3 linked regions of the Homo sapiens genome follow. The protein of the gene in region 2 purifies or fractionates together with the protein of the main gene of each other region. This does not show direct contact. Each region holds a gene or a part of one and is shown on either strand. Other genes may lie near its edges. The genes, in order: SLC25A38, MFN2 and NCEH1.

Region 1 (4,153 bases), on a different chromosome or scaffold from region 2:
ATGTTTTGTGAAATTTGAAGTTACTAGCTTAAAAACAAGACCAAAAAAAAAGATGGAATAAAAATACAAGTAATGACAAATGTATTAGGAGCTACAGAGTATCCCACAAATTTGTCATTAATACTAATTGAATTATAATTTTAAAAAACCCAACCAAACCAATACCCTTTAATTGGTTCATATTCCTCTCAGGATAAAGTCCAAACTGCTGGTTGCAGGGCCTTTCATGTATCACAGGGCTCCTGCTAACCGTTTTGGCCTATGTTCTCACCCTCCCACTAACACACTCTGCAGCCATACTGGAGGACTCCGCCTTACTTTCACCTCTGAAAACTCTGACATGTTGTTATGCCCTAGCACCGGTCTTGCTCCCTAACTCCCCCATGTCCAAGTTCAGTGCCTCTCCTTCCGGCTTCTACAGCAACACCTGTCCCCATCTCCCTTATGACTGCGTGTCAAAGACAGAATAGTCACAACTCCTGCCTGTCTTGTTCATGGTGATATCTCAAGAACTGACCTCGGAGCCTGGTGCACAGTAGGTGTTCAGCAGTGACAGCGGAATGAATCTTACCACCTAACAGGAAACCTTATGCTCTCCCTTTGAGCACAATCCCACATGATAGGGCTCGGTGGGCCCTGCATGACTCATCCCAGGATGGGTTAATCTCCCCCACCTCTCTCCAGGCCCCTTGCTCCAGCAAGGCTATAGGAATGACCTGCAGTTAGTTTCTGGGCAGTTATGTTAGGCGCTGCTTCCCCAGTGCTCACACAGGTGCTGTGTGGAATTTGTTTTAAAACAAATTTGCTGCTGTCCTTGACCTTCCCACCCTTGATTGCAGGAAATATCTTCTTAACGTCTTTTATTTCACAGCACAGTGATTAGACATGTTATTGGCTCAAGTTATTGAGCCAATAACTTTTTTAGCTTTGTACTTTTCCCAGTCCATTAGCACAGAGCAGATGTTATTTATACTAGCAGTATAGATCAACTTCTAATAGGCAAAAACAAGACAACAACAACAACAAAAACCATCCCAACAGGTAATACTGAATGGTCTTAAGATTTTTGTCAATGGTGAATGGCACACATCCTTTGCGAGTGAACTTAACTTTTAAAAAGTAGCTCAAGGCCAAGCGCGGTGGCTCACACTTGTAATCCTAGCACTTTAGGAGGCCGAGGCAGACGGATCACTTGAGGTCAGGAGTTCAAGACCAGCCTGGCCAACATGGTGAAACCCTCTCTCTACTAAAAATACAAAAACTAGCCGGGCGTGGTGGCGCACGCCTGTAATCCCAGCAACGTGGGAGACTGAGACAGGAAAAATACTTGAACCCGGGAGTCAGAGGTTGCAGTTGAGCCGAGATCACGCCACTGCACTCCAGCGCGGGCGACAGGGCGAGACTCTGTCTCAAAAAAAAAAAAAAAGAAAAAAGAAAAGAAAGCTCAAAAATATATTCAAGGTAAATAAAAAAGTAGTTTCTTTTTAAGGGGAGAAAGAAGAGGGCATAAACAATAATACGCACACGAAATAAGTAGCACATAAGAGTACAAACTGGATCCACAAGCAATTCCTACTGCCCTGAAAAAACTATCCTAAGTCCAATTCACATCTGGAGGCGAGGGCTGGAGAGCCCTGAAAAAGGTAAGCAGGTTTTCAAAGACGTCAACGTAAAGTCGCCACCGCCGCCGTCTCCGCCTTTAAGGATTAAAAAAAAAAATAAAAGCCGCCCCTACCTCGGGCGCAAGACCTCAGAGGGAGAGCTGCGGCAGCTGCAGTGGCCTCAGGCCTTTAGCGTCTAAAGACTGGTTGCACCCCGACTCCACCTACCGGGCAACCACGCCGCCAGCCCCGCCTCCGCCTCCACCAATAGCGGCCCGGCGGCCCGGGCACGATGACCAATCGAACGCCGGAGGAGGCGTGGCGTCGCTGGGGGACCACGCGCCGTCCCAACAGGCTGGAAGGGTGCCGCCACGACTGGCCCCTCCAGGTAGGCCGCCGCCCGCGGGCGCACAGCGCTACCCGGCCAGCTCGCTGCGGCATCAACGGCTTCTCAGCGTCAGCGCTATTATCAGGCCTTGTGACCGTCCCAAATCTGCCCGGGTGCCCTTCCACCTGGCAGCCTACTCGCACCTTGTGGGGGCCGCGCGGGCACACTCCCCGGCACGCGTCCAGTCCAGGCCCCGGCAATTCCGCCCTTTACCGGGACATCGGCCCTACAGCGCCTGCCCCCAGGGCTGGCCTGCAGCTCCTGGCCTCTCCTCACTCCCTGCCCCCTTCTCAATTCCCTTAGTCAGACTCCTCTCCCGCCGCATCCTAAATCCTGAGCGCACCCTGGGGCGCGGAAAAGGGTAGCCGAGCCTTAGCAACGCCCCGAATTCTCCGGCCCGAGCCCGCGGTTCGGACCCCTGCCCTTCCTTCCCCGCAGTGCCCTCACCATAAGCGTTTCCACCGTGTCTCCGACATCTTGGGGTTGCAGCAGCGACGGACGTGAGTTCTGAATCATTGGAGATGAGGCCCGCGAGTCCTCTGGGCCCAGGGTGCCGTCGACGGGCGCTTGGGCCCAGCCCTGGAGGCCTTGAAGAAGGCTAGGGGGTGGCGCTAGCCAGGCGACGCGCTTTAAGCCGCGGGCTCTCTGACGTCTGCGCCTATAAGCACGCAGCCGCCGGGGTTCGGATCCTGCTAGTCCAGGGGCTGCGGGCGCGGAACAATCTTGCTGCGGGAATTACGCGCCGCTCTTCACCCGCGCCGCAGACTCCGCGGCTCTGCTCTCCTGCCCATCCTGCCCTGCTGCAGGCTTCAGCACCGTAGGAGATGAGGTTCTGTGTATCCCGGGGTGGAGGAAGCGCCGGAGGAACTCTGTAGAAGGGGAGATTTCGCTTCCGGGTGGGACGCTTGTCACGTGAGGGTGTTCTGAGTGCCACCTGGTGAAAACGCCCAGAACTGAAGGATCCGCGCTTCCTTGCACCCAGAACTTAATGGAGCGTCTGCAGGGAACTTTGCTTTTGCGTGGAACGTCTGAACGTATTTACAATCCAGACCTGGTCTGCCCAGTAAGGCAGCCACTAGCCAACGTGGGCTATTGATTTATTAATTGATACATTAATTTTAATTATATTAAAACAAGCAGTGTGGAATGCTTTCTCCTTAAACAGGCGTTTTTTTGTTTTGTTGTTTTTTTTTCAGGACCATATTTCCCTTTAAATGCTGAAAATTTAGTGTGGAATTGATATGTACTGTATGCATAAACCACACGCTGGATGTCTAAGACTGGTGAGGTAAAATCTCAATAATTTTTATATGTTGAAATGATATTTTGGATATATTGGGTTAGGTGAAATATTAAAATTAACTTCAGGCCGGGGGCAGTGGCCCAGGCCTGTAATCTCAGCACTTTGTGAGGCCTAGTCTGGAGGATTGCTTGAGGGAGCCAAGGAGTTGGAGACCAGCGTGGACGACAAAGCAAGACCCCGTCTCTAAAACAAATAATAATAACTTCATGTGTTTCTTTTTAAATGTGGCTAGTAAAACATTTAAACTTTAACATGTGGCTCCCATTACATTTCTGTAGGACAGCGCTGGTCTAGTTGGTCAAAATTCTGGTTTATTGCTCACCTGGAATCTGTCAATGGCTTTTTTGGTCTCCCAACTTCCCCTTATGCCTGTCTGGCTGATCCATGGAAAAGCATTACTGCTGGGATCCTGACACTCCTGTTGAAAATGCAGTGGCCCTGGTAATAAAGTCCAAGCTTTTCATAGCAACCTTCGCTACTTTCCACCTTCATTCATCACCCAAGAACTAGATCAGAAAGGAAAGTGACTTAGGGAGCAAGATAATATTTTTTCAGGCTTCATTCCTGTGCTTCTGAGGTACATAGAACAGGAAGGAAAGTGGTCCCAGAGGAGGTTATTCCCAGAAAGGATTAAGGAAAGTATAAACATTAAAAAAAAAAAAAAAATTACAGGCCGGGTGCGGTGGCTCACGCCTGTAATCCCAGCACTTTGGGAGGCCGAGGCGAGCCGATCACGAGGTCAGGAGATCGAGACCATCCTGGCTAACATGGTGAAATCCCGTCTCTGCTAAAAATATAGCCGGGTGTGGTGGCAGGCGCCTGTAGTCCCAGCTACTCGGGAGGCTGAAGCAGGAGAATGGC
Region 2 (2,718 bases):
TAACCCCTCTGGGCCTCCTTTTCCCCATCTGTGAGACAGGGATAAACACGATTGTTGGAGGATGATGTAAGGGTGTGTGTCAAGCGTCCTTAGGATGGTGCCTGGCGGGTAGTCCTAATACTGCCTATCATCAGCTATCATGGTTACAAAAGAACCATTTCTTTGCAGGAATAAAGCCGGTTGGTTGGACAGTGAGCTCAACATGTTCACACACCAGTACCTGCAGCCCAGCAGATAGTGGGCACCTGAGGCGGAGTCTGCGTGGAGAGGGGCGGTGCTGCCAGCCCTAAGTGCCATGTGGGCTCCCCCAGGGGCACGTGTGGCTCCTGCCCCCTGGCCACTGCCAAGAGAATGAAGCACCCAGTCTCGTACCATTTTGAGCCCTCCAGCACTACTTATTTTCCCCCACCTTTGCCTGCTGTTGCTGGAAGAGCTGGCTCATACCCCCAAAGGACACTTTCAGCGACAGCTATGGACAGCATGGTACCAAGGAGTTAAGTTGAGGCTTTTTCCAGCTTTCTCTGGTTCATTTGATTGCTTGATAAGGCCTCAGGATCTCAGCATTGCACAATGCCTCATGGAAGCCTTTGAGGGTATCACACAGACACCCCCACCTTCCTCCAGCCTGTGCGCACCTGCCCTCCTTGCAGCCCAGCACACCTGCAGGTGTAAGGGACGATTGGAGTTTCTTCCCAGAGAGTCTGTCCCAGAAGGACTGTGGCTTGTGTGTGTCCATCTCGCCTGTTGGCTCAGTGCTTCATCCCATTTGCAGAGCCTCAGACACGTCTTGGTGGTGAGGCTCAGTTACCCCTGGGCTTAGGCTGAGGCGGGCCCTGTGCTGGGGGTGGTAGAAAGGATGCTGCTGAGGCAGCTGGAGGAGTGGGAGTAGCTCAGAGGGGAGGGCTGTTGGATGTATGGGGAGCTGGCAGAGCAGGTGGCAGTCACTGGGACAAGGAGGGACTTGCCTCTCTTCTCATTATTGTGTCCTTTGCTTTAGTGTCAGTCCTGGACTTGTGCAGGCCTGTTTTGTGTAGATCTGTTTTGGAAGATGGCATGGTCTAGGTGGTTGAAGGATGTAGTAGAAGGATGGATGGTGGAAGGTGGGGACGTTGGTGGCTGGCTGAGGTGCATGGGCCCCACACAGGACAGCTGGAGAATGGGCCGTCCACTTGGCCTCGTTCTGCGAGGGGCTCATGGGTCTGAGAGCCCCCACCCACTAGGCTTGATTGCATCCCTGTTGTGCCCTTTAAGAGACATGTTTCCACCCCACCCCCAACCTTGTCCCAAGTGCCCTGGACTAAATTTCCTGTGCCAGTGACTGCAGTTGGCCAAGGGACAATGTGGAAAACCCAGTGTCCATCTTTCCACCCTCCCTGATCTCCAGAACCTTCGACTGACCCCCTTGTCTTTATGCTGATGTTGAGTTTTGGGATTGTTACTGGTTGAAGTGGGGGCAGATGCCTGTCACCAAGGTGTTGACTGTGTGAGAAAAGCAGTTTGGGTGACAAATCCTGTGTGGCACAAGTTGGATCGCTTCCTAGAAATAAGCAACACCTCTCCCAAAAAGCAGCCCACAAGGCAGGGGCCCAGCAGCCCAGCCATCACTCATCTTTGAGGAAATGAGTTGGTAGCCTCTGTGCACTGTTTGGTGGCCACATCACAGGTGATGTCCTGTTCACATACCTGCTTGTATTTAAAGCCCTCAGTCTGTCCTGTTGTGTGGGGCGAAGTGATGGACTCTGCCAGGTGGACATGCTGTGGGTGGATGTTCCCGGCGTGTGCCGGGCCTGAATGGACAGGGGCCACTTCACAGCATGTCAGGGAAAATCACTGTCACACAATTCCAATGGATTTTGTGCTCTTTTTGAAAAAAAAAAATTCTTTAGCGTAAACATGAATTTTTTTTCAATGTAGCCCCTGGGGAATGAATGAAATTTTGAGCTTCTTCAATACGTAAAATTAAATTTATACCACTGAGGGAGAGACCCTTTCTGAAAGAAGTATGGCCAAAAGCACTTTAATGCTGCTGACATTGTTGTTTTTATGTTCATTTGCTGGAGCGCAAGACGTGCTGACACAGTGAGTTTTCTCTGATGTATTTAAGGTGATGTATTTGCTTGAGTTACTCCTGTATCATTGCTCATAATATTGGAAACTAAAATAAAACCTAGTTGGAAATCCTTTGTGAGATCTGTCTTTTTGGGTTCTTGTACAAACTCCTCTTTGACATGGCCAGCTGTATTCTGAAGTGACCATAACTTTGGGGAAGTTCCCACTATAATCTGGCTCCTTATTCTTGGAAGGAATTTGATACTCTCAAAAGAACAGATGGTTTAACTGATCTTTAAGGATCAGGAAATCGAGACTGATTTCTTTACAGATTTCTCTGTAACTCCAGACCATTTTTCACTTAAAAAGTAAATGACTCACTGTTCCATCCTGCTTTGCCTTCTGAGAATTTGGTTGCCACTATTCTTTTTTTTTTTTTTCTTTTTTGAGATGGAGTCACGCTCTGTCGCCCAGGCTGGAGTGCAGTGGCACGATCTCGGCTCGCTGCAAGCTCCGCCTCCCGGGTTCAAGCAGTTCTCTGCCTCAGCCTCCCAAGCAGCTGGGATTACAGGCGCCGACCACCAGGCCTGGCTAATTTTGGTATTTTAGTAGAGACAGGGTTTCATCATCTTGGCCATACTGGTCTCAAACTCCTGACCTTGTGACCCA
Region 3 (3,653 bases), on a different chromosome or scaffold from region 2:
GGGGAGGTGTTGGGGGACTGAGATCTGTTGAGGTAGGGGATTCATTCACATTCCCATGACAACTTCACTCTGGCATATGCTCATTATGTAGAATGGAGGGTGCATTGCCAGAACTATTTAAATTCTGTCTCACCAAGCGTGAAGATGCTCACCAGAAAGCATACCCTGAGGTCCTACTTAAACACTCAGGAGTCTCATAATCTGCTTATTAAGTTTTTTCTGCCCCTCTCTTCTGGAAGAATAAGACTAATTTTTTTCCCCCTAGGAAGCCATGACCTTTTTGGGGGTTTTGTAGGGAATAAAAAATTAAATAAGGTTCACACATTATCCATTCATAATACCTAGGTGTCTTAACTGCCTAAAGATAGATACAAGTACAGGGTTCACTCAAAACTGAGTTGTAAACATCATACCTTTCTTAGTTAAATATCTAGCAGCTTGATAGGGTGGTGATGGTAATGATGGAGAATTATTTTTTAAACTTTATTATTTATACAGTGCCTGGTAGAAATGTAACACTTATACCATTGACAGATTCAGAGTAACACATGAAGCTACTCTACAGGGTATGGTTCCTATAAAAGAAGGCATGCAAAATGAAATAATGTATTTGCTTCCTCTTCTCTAGTTTACTCAAGATGCCAGCCTAAAAAATAAGCTCAAACTACAAGCTTTAATTTATCCAGTTCTTCAAGCTTTAGATTTTAACACACCATCTTATCAGCAAAATGTGAACACCCCAATCCTGCCCCGCTATGTCATGGTGAAGTATTGGGTGGACTACTTCAAAGGCAACTATGACTTTGTGCAGGCAATGATCGTTAACAATCACACTTCACTTGATGTGGAAGAGGCTGCTGCTGTCAGGGCCCGTCTAAACTGGACATCCCTCTTGCCTGCATCCTTCACAAAGAACTACAAGCCTGTTGTACAGACCACAGGCAATGCCAGGATTGTCCAGGAGCTTCCTCAGTTGCTGGATGCCCGCTCCGCCCCACTCATTGCAGACCAGGCAGTGCTGCAGCTCCTCCCAAAGACCTACATTCTGACGTGTGAGCATGATGTCCTCAGAGACGATGGCATCATGTATGCCAAGCGTTTGGAGAGTGCCGGTGTGGAGGTGACCCTGGATCACTTTGAGGATGGCTTTCACGGATGTATGATTTTCACTAGCTGGCCCACCAACTTCTCAGTGGGAATCCGGACTAGGAATAGTTACATCAAGTGGCTAGATCAAAACCTGTAAAGGAGCAAAACTTCCAGAAGCCTCGAGCCCCTCTTGACCTCCTACACCTGCTTTGGAAAGACATGCACTTTTTAGTTGACTAATTCTTCCTCCCATTCCCCTCTACTTGCGAGTTATGGAATTTCTATTCCATAACTGAAGTCTTTATGATAACCTAATTTTTAAAAATGAATTTGACTAACTTAAGTGCAAAACATGTAAATTTGGTTCCCAGAGTGGGCCAATCTCTCTGTTCTTGTTATCTTAGCCAACTATACTGATACCTACAGCTACAGAAAGCAGGACTAGGAACTGGAAATAACTTTGGGTCCTGCCTTCATTAGGACGTTCTTTTTAGAAGCAGTTCTTCCAGCTCTGGATCATAGAGTGACCTTTAATAAGTTAAAAAAACGAGGACTCCTTAATTCTGCTAGAGTTAACCTTGAGTTCAGAGCAGTATTAAATGCGTGCACTTTCAGGTCAGTACTGGGGACCAAGTACCCTCTGGTCTTTTGTGAATGGATGGTTTTGTTTCCTATGGGAATTTTGGCAAAGGTTTTCTGGAAAGAACAAGTTTCTCAAAGGACTTTCTTCCTCTAGAATGTTCATTTTATGAGATCGCTATCTGTAAGTCCAGTTGGATTACAGGAATACTTGAAAGTTACTTTCTACCACTATTAGAAAATATGAAGTCGCATGCACTGGATATCTATATATCATTAGGTTTTTGTTGTGTTTTTGGTTATGCTGTCCCCCTTCTCCTTGGGGAGATATTTGGGAGCAAACTTATTTAGATTTAGAGTAAACTTTTCATTATAGAGCAAGTAAAAACAGACAAATGAAACAACCTAGTGTTTCACATAAAAATACTTCTGACATAAAGTACCAAGAGCAGTGTGAATATACTTGGCATAGTCAAAAAAGAAAATACATTTAATATTAGTTCAAAATTGTTAAAAATACCTTTAGAAGGTCTAGTCTATTATTGAAAACTCAATTTTTTCACTTATATGGCTTTAAAATGGAGCTATTTTGCTACAATATAATGTATTGTTTATTTTTTTAAGTTATTTAATGTTAATATACATAGCTAGACTTAAGGTTTTTCAGAAAGATGTCCATAATAAATATTAAAAACAATGGTATTTTTTAAAAAACTGCCTTAGGGTTTTAAAACCTTCCCTACAGTTATAACCACGTGTAATTTTGTGGAAATGATATAACAGCTATTAATACTACTATAACATAGGCATAAATATTTTCGTGTTTATATGCATATACAAGTTAAAATAATTAGAAACTATGACTGCGCCTAGTAAAGTCATCTAGGTTTATAGTTCAGTAGCTTAGGCAAGGCACACACTGCTCATCTCCGCTTTTTAGGGTCAGAGGAACACAAGCTCATGTTCTGAGTGAAGGGCGTACACTGGCACCTGGTGTTGCCTAGATCCCCCATCTCCTCCTTCCAGCCAGGTCTGGAAGTTTCAACAGCCCAAGCTTAACTTCATGTAAAGTCTTCACTGCCAGTGGGAACATCTTTGACACAACAAGACACTCCAATTGTGATTTGAGTTGAGGATCTCTGCCTGCCTTCCTGCCGTCCTTCCTTCTTCCCCGATCCATGCTACTTTTAGGGGCTGCGGAGAGCAGCAGCAGAGCTGAGTAATGATACAGGGCACCACGGAGAGAAAGTAGAACCATTTCACTCCTGGGAAGATGGGGTATTTCCCACTTCCAGCAACGAAATAACAAATGAAAAGTTGCATACTTATTGATGTATTGTATGAGCCAGTAGCATTTTATGTACAAAACAGAAGTCAATGCAACAGTATGTATGTGTGCCTGTGTGTGTATAAAAATAACCATTGAAGCTAACTTGCTAATGTACTTAGGCAAGCCACTTCCCATCTCTGGGCCTCGTCTTTCCTCCCTCTAAAATCAAAGAGCTGAATTATGTGATCCTTGAGGTCTCTTCCACTTATAATACCAACTGTCTTGTCAGACTGGCAAATTATATTGGCCTCTCCTTATGTGGTGGTTTTTTTGGTAGGTCATAGTTCCTTATACACAGACACCTGCATCATCGAAGGTCTTTTTTTCCTAAAAAAAAAAAATGGGATTTTAGTTCTTATTCTGTGATAACTATCCTCCTCATATAATACTATTCTTTTTGACACCATTTGAAGGAACCAATATTTGGACCTTATTTTGAGGTTGTCTGTCTCGAAGAAAAAGAAAATAAAATGTATAGGCAGGGTTCCTTCAATTGGCATTTTCCCCAGAATTGTGAGCCAAAGCCTATAGTAATTGCAGACAGCAAATGATTCCGGATCTCTAAAAGGCTCTCTCAGATGAAAAGGGAGTAAAGGAAAAAAGAGGTCAACCACTGTTTCTGATAATGTACTTGAGTTTCATTGTTCTTTTAGTT

What was found.
Region 1: the proteins of MFN2 (region 2) and SLC25A38 purify together in Homo sapiens (affinity purification with western blotting; one study listed by BioGRID). This does not show direct contact.
Region 3: the proteins of MFN2 (region 2) and NCEH1 purify together in Homo sapiens (co-immunoprecipitation; one large-scale study listed by IntAct). This does not show direct contact.

Annotation. Positions count from the first base shown.
Region 1 is NC_000003.12:39,382,077-39,386,229, reverse strand, and holds the start of SLC25A38 (mitochondrial glycine transporter), read right to left. Parts: upstream 2,861-4,153; 5' UTR 2,506-2,860; coding exon 2,437-2,505; intron 1,990-2,436; exon of another isoform or gene 1,905-1,989; intron 1,796-1,904; exon of another isoform or gene 1-1,795. UniProt on the Homo sapiens protein: Mitochondrial glycine transporter that imports glycine into the mitochondrial matrix.
Region 2 is NC_000001.11:12,011,328-12,014,045, forward strand, and holds the end of MFN2 (mitofusin-2), read left to right. Parts: intron 1-168; coding exon 169-238; 3' UTR 239-2,181; downstream 2,182-2,718. UniProt on the Homo sapiens protein: Mitochondrial outer membrane GTPase that mediates mitochondrial clustering and fusion. Mitochondria are highly dynamic organelles, and their morphology is determined by the equilibrium between mitochondrial fusion and fission events.
Region 3 is NC_000003.12:172,631,068-172,634,720, reverse strand, and holds part of NCEH1 (neutral cholesterol ester hydrolase 1), read left to right. Parts: intron 1-628; coding exon 629-1,246; 3' UTR 1,247-3,653.